3 linked regions of the Homo sapiens genome follow. The protein of the gene in region 1 purifies or fractionates together with the protein of each later gene. This does not show direct contact. Each region holds a gene or a part of one and is shown in the gene's direction. Other genes may lie near its edges.

The links.
Region 2: the proteins of SYT6 (region 1) and AHCYL2 purify together in Homo sapiens (affinity purification with mass spectrometry; 3 studies listed by BioGRID and IntAct, with this or other methods). This does not show direct contact.
Region 3: the proteins of SYT6 (region 1) and MADD purify together in Homo sapiens (affinity purification with mass spectrometry; 3 studies listed by BioGRID and IntAct, with this or other methods). This does not show direct contact.

What each region holds. Positions count from the first base shown.
Region 1 is NC_000001.11:114,147,246-114,150,996, reverse strand, and holds part of SYT6 (synaptotagmin-6), read left to right. Parts: intron 1-3,751.
Region 2 is NC_000007.14:129,389,007-129,392,757, forward strand, and holds part of AHCYL2 (adenosylhomocysteinase 3), read left to right. Parts: intron 1-49; coding exon 50-193; intron 194-627; coding exon 628-728; intron 729-3,751. UniProt on the Homo sapiens protein: May regulate the electrogenic sodium/bicarbonate cotransporter SLC4A4 activity and Mg(2+)-sensitivity. On the contrary of its homolog AHCYL1, does not regulate ITPR1 sensitivity to inositol 1,4,5-trisphosphate.
Region 3 is NC_000011.10:47,286,999-47,290,749, forward strand, and holds part of MADD (MAP kinase-activating death domain protein), read left to right. Parts: intron 1-1,969; coding exon 1,970-2,029; intron 2,030-2,392; coding exon 2,393-2,495; intron 2,496-2,790; coding exon of another isoform or gene 2,791-2,868; coding exon 2,869-3,055; intron 3,056-3,150; coding exon 3,151-3,301; intron 3,302-3,611; coding exon 3,612-3,751. UniProt on the Homo sapiens protein: Guanyl-nucleotide exchange factor that regulates small GTPases of the Rab family. Converts GDP-bound inactive form of RAB27A and RAB27B to the GTP-bound active forms.

The sequences.
Region 1 (3,751 bases):
TCCCTTGACTTCTTCCTGTTCTAAGTCTCTAGCTTACAGATTTCTAGTAACACCCTGAGACTGAGATTCAGACTCCACTGTCATTTGCTGAGACTCCTCTATAGGCTAGAGTCTGTGCTAGGAATTGCACAGGAAGTCTCAGTTAATCAGACCCTGACTTGGAAACACCTGTACACAAACTGTCCAAACTAAAAGCAAGTTTCCCCTTTTTCTTTAAAAACTCTGAAGCCATAGGCCTGCTATTCTCCTTAATACACCCCAAGTGAACACTAATAAGCAGTTCTCCACCTTTCATTGTGTCATTTGCCTTGTAGAAATGAATGAACTTTTTCCATAAGCCAAGCTGCAGAGGTTTAGGTATGGTCAGCATGGGTTCTGGACTTAAGGTAGCAAGCAGAGGTCCAGAAGTGCTCCAGCAAATGCAGAAACCTGACAGGAGACCTCAAGCTTCCCTGTTTTTCTTAGGCTGGCAGCCGGGAGTGGTTAACTCCAGTTTACTTGTGGCCATGAAATTTATGTGATGTTTGTCCTTCTCACTGGAAGGATGGAATTCTGCAGATTTTGCCCTTTTTGAGGAAAGGTACAATGCACAATCCTTTAGAACCCAAGGAGATGATATTCTGACTAGTGTGTTTTGAGCTTTAGAGTTCTAGAAGCAGGGTCCAGTATCTAAGAGTTGTAGAGCCCTTAGATTTATAGTTCTAGAAGTTTTCTTCTCCCTCTGACTTTGATGAGAACGTCAAGTAGGGATGGTGGTTTCAGTATGTGTCATCCCTCTAAGCTCTGTACAAAAGACATGTTCTCTTCTAACTGTCTGAAGTTTATCTTCCCTGTCCACAGAGTTAGGGGTATAACATGTGGCTGCAAATAGTGAGGAGTGGCATTGAGGCATCTGGATCAAACCAGGTTTCTTTATGGTCTGTATAGGGTTGTCTGGAGTGGGGAAAGCATGCTAAGACAAAGTTCCGACTAAACTGGGTGGCACCCTTTCTATTCTTGCTTAGGAAAAGAAGCCTCTAAGGACTGAGTCACACTTAGGAACTGAAATCAGAGGAGTCTCTGAAAGTAGAAATAAACAGGGGCATCCAGATCTGGACCCTCCAAGTATAATGACACAACCTCATCCCTCCCTTCTTTCTTCTAGGAGCACTGAACTCTTTCTTGCTCCCCGAGGACCCAGGCAGACCCCTCCTCTCACTAGTTGCAGGTACAAACAGGGAGAGAAGCATAGAGGGAAAAGAATTTCTGGCTGTCTGCCCTCCACCTCCATCACTCCAGCCTTGATCCCACATTCAGAAGGGCCACATGCCCTGACCCCTCAAGCAGAAAGGTACAGTTACCATCCACCAAACTAATAATATTAATAATTGTTAAATTAGTGCCAATGTTCTGTTAGCTGTAACACTCCACATTAGTCTCCGATTTAGCTCTGAATCCCCTAATGATGGTGGAAGTGAGCGCCCAGTCATAAAGCTTGGTGCGGCCGTAATTAGCTTGGCATTGTCTCTCCTCATCACAGCTTTTTCAGGAGCATTAATTCCTTCTCTGTTTGGACTCTGCTAATTATCCCCATTGGTAGCTCAGTCTGGATCTCTGAAAGAAGCAAAGGAAGCAAAAGCCCTCTGCTCCCCTCCCCCCAGCCCTGAATTTTAATTACACCGGTTCTCCTAATAAACTTACAAGCCCTGGCAGAGCTTATTATTAATTATTAATGGGCCACGTCTGAGCCTCAGTACAGAATAGCTCTGTTCTCCCAACACACACACACACACACACACAATCTCTCTCTCTCTCTCTCTCTCAGATATTCCTCAGGTACACCTTTTCCAGAGGCCACTGGTTACTTGCCTGGTGGCTGGTGGGCAACCTGAAGTGTCAGCTTTCCAGGGAAGAAGATGGGGCAGGTGGTCACCAGGCTGGTCATAATCTGAGTCTCTGGGGCTCTGTCCAGGTTCATAGGGTCAGGCCAAAAAGTGGGAGTATCCCTCCCATCCTCTCCTGAGTACAACTAAGAAATGCCTGCCCCCACTCCAACTTCTCTGTCCAGCCTGGGACTCCACAGCTCAATCTGTAGTCCTCCCAGATACGTGATTCAAGAGCCCAGATTTGGGCATCAGCAAGTCCTAGGTTCAAATCCCAGCTCTTCTCCTTAATGCACTGTACCCTTGAACAAGTTACCTGGTTAACATCTCTATGCTTAGTTTCTTTATCTTTAAGGGTGTATACCAATTTCTTAGGGAGGCTAGAAAGGTTAAATTAGATAATGTAAAGGGCATAATGCTCACTATGTATTAATAAATAAATAAATAAATAAATAAATAAATAAATGATATTATTAGTATTTTATGAGTGGTTCTGCCCAGAATCTCTTCTCTTCCCAGGCTAAACGCTCTTCTTCCAAGCTCCTGGGCCTCTGCGTCACTTGCTCCCTGGCCTCTGGGCTGTGCTTTGTCTATGTCTCTGTCTGTGTCTGCACGAGAGCTCCTTGGCCGAGGCAGCTCCTGCTCTCCCCAGCCTGAGCACTGACCGTTTCTGAGGGTCCACCACCAATTCCAGGCCCTGAAGCCAGCCTTCTCTGGCTTTGGGGTGAGTAGGGAAAATGGTTCTTTCTTTTTGCTTCCTCTTCCCAGTTTATCTCTTCAATTACAATCTGTTAGCAAGAACGCCTGTTACTGTTACAAAATGGATTTTTCTGATGTGGGAGCCCATTAGAAAAATGGGAACAATAGCAAGCAATAAGAATTGCTGATGAATTCTAACACTATGGGTGGAGAAGAGGGGAGGGGGCACTAGGGCTGTCTTTGGAGAAAGAAGTGTCAGTGGGGGAAGATAAGAAAGCCCTGAGCTGCTATTTAATAACCCAGCATTTTCTGGAAGAGGAGGGAGACCATGGGCCATCACCCCAACCAGACAGTCTCATTTAAGGTGACAAGCAGATCCTATCCTGATGGCCTTGAAGGGGATCTCAACTTCCCAGGAGAGAAGAGGGGCCTGACGTCCCTCAGATTCTTTGTCCTCTGATCTGGAGTCTCCCTTCCCTGCCTCAAAGACTTAGCTTAGCTTTGTGTCTGTTCTGTATACACAGTCAACTGTTATCCTCCACCAAAAAACAAAACATGAAGAATAACAGCAGCTTACATTTTGGGGACATTCACTGTGTACCAGGGCCTGTGCTCAAAGTCTTAGCTTATTTAATATTCACAATGATTCTGCAAAGTAGGAATAATTCGAATCCTGACTAAATAAAAGAGAAAACTAAGATTTGGACAGGTTAAATAACTTGCTCAAGGTCACGCAATTAGAAAGCAATGAAGATGATACATGCTGTGCTGTCGGTCATTCTGGCACTGCCGCCCACCTGAGATGTCCATCCTGTGTCTGAGCACCTGTGAGTTCAGTTTCACAGCCAGGGCTAGAAGCCATGTGCCCCTGTACAAGGCTATGTCACTGGGGTGTGATCCCAAAGCCTAGTTCCATAGCTGTTTTCTCTCCCATGAGACTGCTGGAGAGTTGGCTACTATGGTTTACCAAATCAGGTGCCCATGAAATACTAGAGCTCCTCTGATGCCTGAATGAAAACATTTTACAATGAATATTGAGCAATAGGCTTCTTTTCCCCAAATTTCAAGAAATTTTTCAAGAACATAGGATGTTCTCAATTATAGGTTTTTCTTCCATGATCTTCTTCTTACTTCTTTGGAATTCATTCCTGTTCACCAGCTGGCTGGTGATGGTAACAACAAAACAACTG
Region 2 (3,751 bases), on another chromosome or scaffold:
AGAGGAAGCATTTTTTTTTTTCCGAGTGTTTTTTATTCTGTCATTCCAGCGGCTTCATATACAGATAGCTCTGATGATGAGACATCGCCCAGGGACAAGCAGCAAAAGAACTCTAAGGGAAGCAGTGACTTCTGTGTTAAGAACATCAAACAGGCAGAGTTTGGACGAAGAGAAATTGAAATTGCTGAACAAGGTAAAGAAAACAAGCACCTTTTCCTTCTTAACCTACCTGTGTCTTTTTGTCCATATTAATCCCTTTTTATGTCTGGGGTCTGGTAGCTTGTGAAATTTCTATGTGATAAGAATACTTATAACAAAAGAAATGTGAGTTCAAGAAACACTGGGGAAATCTGGCAAGTCTAGAAGGAACCCTGTATTAAAAAAAAAAAAAAAAAAGGGAGAGAGACTGGATAAGGACTGGAATATAGAGAATCAGAACCCTGGAGCATTTGCCTCCAAAAGCCCTTTATAAAGGAAAATACAGGTTTAATGTCTTGATCCCTGGAGAAACCTAATCTAACCTGATCAGGGGAAGGATCTTAACTTAAGAAAACAAGTTTTTCTGTTTGTTCTTTTATCTCTTATTCCTTCTTCTTTAATATTGCTGTATTTATTGGGCCTTTTCAGAAATGCCTGCATTGATGGCTTTGAGGAAGAGAGCTCAAGGAGAAAAGCCTTTGGCTGGAGCCAAAATCGTGGGTTGCACACACATCACTGCTCAGACTGCTGTGAGTTCTTTTCTTTTCTCCTTTTAATTACAATAGTTAATAATAGCCACGAGCTACTGAAAGCTTACAACATGCCAAGCACCGAGTTAAGAGCTTAACAAGTATTAGCTTATTAATCCTTATAATGGCCATATAAAGCAGGTATTCTTGTTTCCATTTTATAAACGAAGAAGCTGAGGCTCAGAGGGCTTAAGATATTTGTTTAAGGTTATACAGCTAGAAATCACAGAGTCAAGATTTTAACTTCAATATACAGTAGTCCCCCTGCCTTGTCTGTGGGGGATAAGTTTCAAGACCCCTAGTGGACACCTGAAACTTCAGACAGTACTGAACCCTATATATACTATGTTTTTTCCTATACATATATACCTATAATCAAGTTTAATTTATGCAATTGGCCCTGCATGTCCACCAGTTCTGCTTCCTGAGGATTTGACCAACTGCAGATCAAAAATATTCAGAAAATAAAATAATACAACAATACAAAATAACAAGAAATATAACAACTATTTACATAGCATTTACACTGTATTGGGTACTATAAATAACCTAGAGATGCTTTAAAATATACAGAAGGATGTGCACAGATTATATGCAAACACTGCATCATTTTATATAAGGGACATGAGCATCCTCAGATTTTGGTATCCATGGGAGTGCTGGAATAAATCCCCTGAGGATACTGAGAGACAGCTATAAATTCAGCACAGTAAGAAATGAACAACAGTAACTCAAAATAAAAGAGAGCAATTACAACAACAGACTGTAATAAAAGTTATGTCACATAAAGGAATTTATCACAGTACATAGCAGAAAGTCCAAAGGGAAGGCAGACTTCAGATGCAGGATCTCAGGGCTCCAGCTTCACCTCTCTGATTCTCTTGGAGCTGCCTCCTCAGTATGCTTACTTCACCCTAAAGCTGATAGCAAGATGCTTACAACTATTCTAGTCATCACAAACTGACATGAAAAGGAAGAGGGACCATTTCTTCCTCACTCAAGAGAAGTCCCTCCAGGATACTCCATCGTGTCTCATTGGGCAGAACTGGATCATGTATCTGTGCTCCACCAGTCCTACCGAGGGGCGTGGAATTACCATGATTTGCTTACACCAGTGATTCCTACCTTACTCTCATCAGTTTTAATGTCCCCTTTTTATTAAAAAACTTTTTTTTTGCAGTGTCCCTGAACTATCCTGAAATGAAATTCAGATATAACATGTCCAGGTACATATAATCTTTAAAAATAAATCAATATAAAATCTTAACTGAAATATGAAGGAGGAATAAAAAAAGTACAATACTTAAAATAATGTGTATTTCAATATGTAAATACTTGAGGACAACTATAGTAGAACAATCAGATATTTGTACTATTTCACAGTATTATTTGAAATAGTATTATTTGAAGACAGAAATAAATGTGTTATTGATTCCAGAGCATCAGAGCAGCATTGCCATGATTTTCTGAAATAGTAAACAACTTTTTGTAATCTTCTAAACAATAAGAACAACAAAAAGTATGAGTTTTCTCTTCATTTACATAGCTGTTACATTCCTGGAAAAACTATTGTTTTGTATTAAAACTACAAAACTACTTTTTGCTAATTTGTAAAGTGGAATTAGGTTCTAAACTCAGATAATTGTAGATAGGTTTTTCACCCATGGGAACTTTTATTGGGACATTTGAAAATTGTACCAGCTGCAACACAGTTTTTTGTTGAGACACTTTCAAAATGTCCAGATTCCTGGTCCTGCCCACTAAATGCCAATAGCACTCCCCTTCCAATTATTGTGGCAACCAAAAATGCCCCCACAATTTTCTAGATCTCCTCTTTTATCACCAGAGATGCAATATATATGGAGTTGCTAACCATAATGAGACCACTATCGGGAAATTGTTATATTGAGCAGTGGTCTGGAATCTTTTATGGGGATTCATAAGATCTGGGTCATCTGTGTGGCTAGATCAGCTTTCCAAAGATTGTCTCTCCCAAAGCACAACACTTATGTGGTCACATTCCTGATTAAGAACATTAGAGATTCCTCAAGGTACAGACAGCTTCTATTAGCATCTTCACTATGAAACTTTTCTGGGTTATGTGTTCTCTGAGGACAAGAGTACCCTGACTGCTCAAAATTAATATAATAAATTGAAAAGCTATCTGTTTTGGAGCTACAAACTAATGAATCAAGACAGAAACACTCTTGAATCTTTTTTGGCCTGCTCAGTCAGCGACATGAGACTTCAGTGTGGTAGCTTAAAATAGTAAGTGCTTCTCTACTGTCTCATGTTGCTGAATTACATCTAGTTTGTTTTTTACCCTTAGGCTCAGTGAGCATTACCACCTTTCATGGTTCCCTTTCTATTTTTTTCCTGAATGGATTGATCACAATTAGCTTACCAATTTTAATATTAATTTATTGTTTCCACCCCACATTTTTTTCCTTTAAAAAAATAACGACAAAGAAATTATGCTTTGTTTGCCAACCTAATACTCTTTCACTCTTGTCTTAGTTCATTTGGGCTGCTATAACAAAATACCTTAGACTGGGTAATTAATAAACAATAGATATTTATTGTTCACAGTTCTGGAGGCTAGGAAGTCCAAGATCAAGGCGCCAGCAGATTCAGTATCTGGTGAGGGCCTGTTCCTTATAGATGGCGCTTTCTATGTGCCCTCACATGGCCAAAGGGGCAAGCAAGCTTCCTCAGGCTTGTTTTATAAGTACACTAATCCCATTTGTGAGGGCAGAAATCTCATGTCTAATCACCTTCCAATCACTTCCATAATCACCTTTTAATACCATCGCCTAGGGGGTTAGTTTTTAACATATGACTCTGGGGGAGGAGAACATACATTCAGACCATAGCAATCCCCAAATACTTTAGTGTGTATTTTCTACAAAGAAGGACATTTTCCTGTACTAGCAGTATAACCATCAGAAGTAGAAAATTAACATTGATTCATTATTACCATCCAATCCTTAGATCCCACTGGAGTTTCGCTTGTTGTTCTGATA
Region 3 (3,751 bases), on another chromosome or scaffold:
GGTAGTATTGGTTAGTTTCTAGGGGCAGTTAAAACCTTATGTGAAAGCCAGGCGCGGTGGCTCACGCCTGTAATCCCAGCACTTTGGGAGGCCGAGGCGGGTGGATCACGAGGTCAGGAGTTCGAGACCAGACTGACCAACATGGCGAAACGCCGTCTCTGCTAAAAATACAAAAGTTAGCCATCTGGTGTCACGCACCTGTAATCCCAGCTACTTGGGAGGCTGAGGCAGGAGAATCGCTTGAATCCAGGAGGCGGAGGTTGCAGTGAGCCGAGGTCGCGCCACTGCACTCCAGCCTGGGTGACAGAGCAAGACTCCGTCTTAAAAAAACAAAAAACAAAAAACGAAACCTTATTTGAATTGGTTTGTGCTATCTGACAGTTTCAGGGGCTTTTCTGAATTTGATTTTTTATTTTTTTTATTTTCTGAGACAGTGTCACTCCGTCACCCAGGCTGGATGGAGTGCAAGGTGGTGATCTTGGCTCACTGTAACTGCCGCCATCCAGGCTCAAGTGATTCACATGCTTCAGCCTCCCGTGTAGTTGGAATTATAGGCACATACCACCTCGCCTGGCTAATTGTTGTATTTTTAGTAGAGACGGGGTTTCACCATGTTGGCCAGGCTGGTCTTGAACTCCTGACCTTGAGTGATCTGCCCACCTTGGCCTCCCAAAGTGCCAGGATTACAGGTGTGAGCCACTGCACCTGGCCTGATTTTTTTGTTTTCTCTGGATGGTATGACGAAATATTTAACTGTGGTAGGAAGTGCAGTGAGAAACATGTATTTTTTTTTTTTTTTTTTTTTTTTTGAGACAAGAGTCTCGCTCTGTTGCCCAGGCTGGAGTGCAGTGGTGCAATCTTGCCTCACTGCAAGCTCCGCCTCCCGGGTTCACACCATTCTGCCTCAGCCTCCTGAGCAGCCGGGACTATAGGAGCCTGCCACCACGCCTGCCTAATTTTTTGTATTTTTAGTAGAGACAAGGTTTCACCGTGTTAGCCAGGATGGTCTCGATCTCCTGACCTTGTGATCTACCCGCCTTGGCCTCCCAAAGGGTTGGGATTACAGGCGTGAGCCACCGCACCTGGCCAACCTCATGTATTCTTTAACTGACCTCTCATTCCTAGTGGTAAAAAATGTCAGGTTACTTGGGTGCAGTAGCTCACACCTGTCATCCTAGCTACTTGTTAGGCAGAGGCAGGAGGTTCATTTGAGCCCAGGAGTTTGAGGTACAGTGAGCTATAATTAGGCCAGTGCACTCCAGCCTGGACGACAGAGTGAAACCCTGTCTCTAAAAGAAGCCAACAGAAACAAACAAAGTTGTCAGGAGTCTAAGACATGTTCTTAGGTGAGGATGGGAACATTGGATAAATGGGCAAAAGGACATCAGAGCTGGCAGTGAAAGGAGCGAACTAGCACTGCCAGGGAATCCACATGTGGCCGGGTAGGCTAAGGATGGAAGGGTGTCAGTGTCACTGGCCTTCATTTGGTACATTTGAAGAGAAGAGCGATTGAAACTCTTTCATTGCATGCTGATGCTTTGTCGCATTTGCTGCACTTACCCTCTCACCCATCTCCCATCCTCATACCCTGACCCCACTCCCCACAACAGCATCTGCAAGATGGGTTGCTTCCCTGCACATACCCTCAGGCCCCTGGCCCTCTGTGCTGGATGTTTTCTGAAAACCAGCGGTCCCTGTTTCATGCATGTGTGTGTTCAGTACCTGAAGGCTCCCTGTGTCATTTACCCGCCCCTGGCTTGAGAGGCCAGTTTTAAGGGTGGTCTTTTCTTAGAGCCTTGGTTGTCTCCTGGTCACTTGGCTTCCAGCTCTGAGGTGCCCAAGAACCAAGGTTATGTGCATTCCTCAAGCTTTGGGAGAATGCTCAGATTATCTGGCTTACTGCTCCTCGGAGGGGTAGAGGGGTTGCGGTATTGTGGTACACCTACTAATTGTGTATTTTGTGTCCCAGTATTTGGGCTAAATACTCTAATGGAGATTGTTACTGAAGCCGGCCCCGGGAGTGGTGAAGGTGGGTCTTGCCTGTGAGCTGTGCATGATCTTTTTTTTTTCTCTAGCATCTTCTGTGCCTGCCCGAGGGCCATCCTTCTCATGGAGCAAGCAGCGTCACATGAGTGACCTGCTTGCCCCGTCCCCCGTGACGCCCATGCTTGCCCATGGGGCTTGCTGCTGGTGCATGTGGAGTGGCCTGAGTCTCCATCCCCACCTCCTCCACATTGCCATGGCTGGTTTCTACCTACGTATGATGCCTTGGTGCTACCCTCACCCAGCCCTTCTGAGGAACGGGCATGGAACATGGCTACTTAGGGCTGTGCTGGCATGAGCTCCTGTACTACAATAGTGATGTCTCTCATTCCTGCCTTCCCTGCCACAGGAAACAGGAGGGCGTTAGTGGATCAGAAGTCATCTGTCATTAAACACAGCCCAACAGTGAAAAGAGAACCTCCATCACCCCAGGGTCGATCCAGCAATTCTAGGTAATAAATGGTAGAGCTGTTTTAAAAGTTCTCAGGCAGAGGTGGGGTGGTTCCTCTACAGAACTTTAGGGATGCTCAAGAGTGGGAGAGAAGCTCTCAATGGGGTAGATGTAATCAATTTCTTGCCAGCACTTCTCATTCTGGCTTGATCTCCATGCAACTGAAAGCTTACAGTGTTGAGGGGGGTTAATCAGCAGCGGTGGGTATTTGGACAAATCGCGTGCTCCAGAGAGGTGGGGATGTGGTGCACTTGGACATTCAGAGACATGGCTTTGTGTTTTACCCCTGGAGGCAGACATCTAGTCTGGGTGAAAGGTGGGGGGTGCTCTGCAAAGGAGCTGATGACCACAGAAGCGGTGTGTGGACCCTGTAGTGAGAACCAGCAGTTCCTGAAGGAGGTGGTGCACAGCGTGCTGGACGGCCAGGGAGTTGGCTGGCTCAACATGAAAAAGGTGCGCCGGCTGCTGGAGAGCGAGCAGCTGCGAGTCTTTGTCCTGAGCAAGCTGAACCGCATGGTGCAGTCAGAGGACGATGCCCGGCAGGACATCATCCCGGATGTGGTCAGTGTTGGGGGTAGGGAATCGGAGTAACTGGAGAGAGGGATGTGAACACCACAGGCAATTTGCCAACGCTAGCCCCTGGGTTATTGTTGCAGGAGATCAGTCGGAAGGTGTACAAGGGAATGTTAGACCTCCTCAAGTGTACAGTCCTCAGCTTGGAGCAGTCCTATGCCCACGCGGGTCTGGGTGGCATGGCCAGCATCTTTGGGCTTTTGGAGATTGCCCAGACCCACTACTATAGTAAAGGTAGGGATCGTACTTGCTGGGCACCACGCCATCCCTAACTCTGCCACTTGTCTCCTGAAGAGAAAATATATGTGTACCCAGGACACGTTTCCCAGTGCCACGCTGCTTCCCATTAGGCTTTGGGATTTTATTTTCTAATGCATGTTTATACGCAGTGGGTATTCTTTGTTACGAAAAATAAGACATCAGCTCATCTTTCCTTGAACTTCTTCCATTCCGCACCCTCCTGTATCCTGGCTCCTCCCACCTCATATCTGCGCCTTGATTCCTACTCACTACTTCTCTTGACCTCTTGATATTTTTCCCTCAGAACCAGACAAGCGGAAGAGAAGTCCAACAGAAAGTGTAAATACCCCAGTTGGCAAGGATCCTGGCCTAGCTGGGCGGGGGGACCCAAAGGCTATGGCACAACTGAGAGTTCCACAACTGGGACCTCGGGCACCAAGTGCC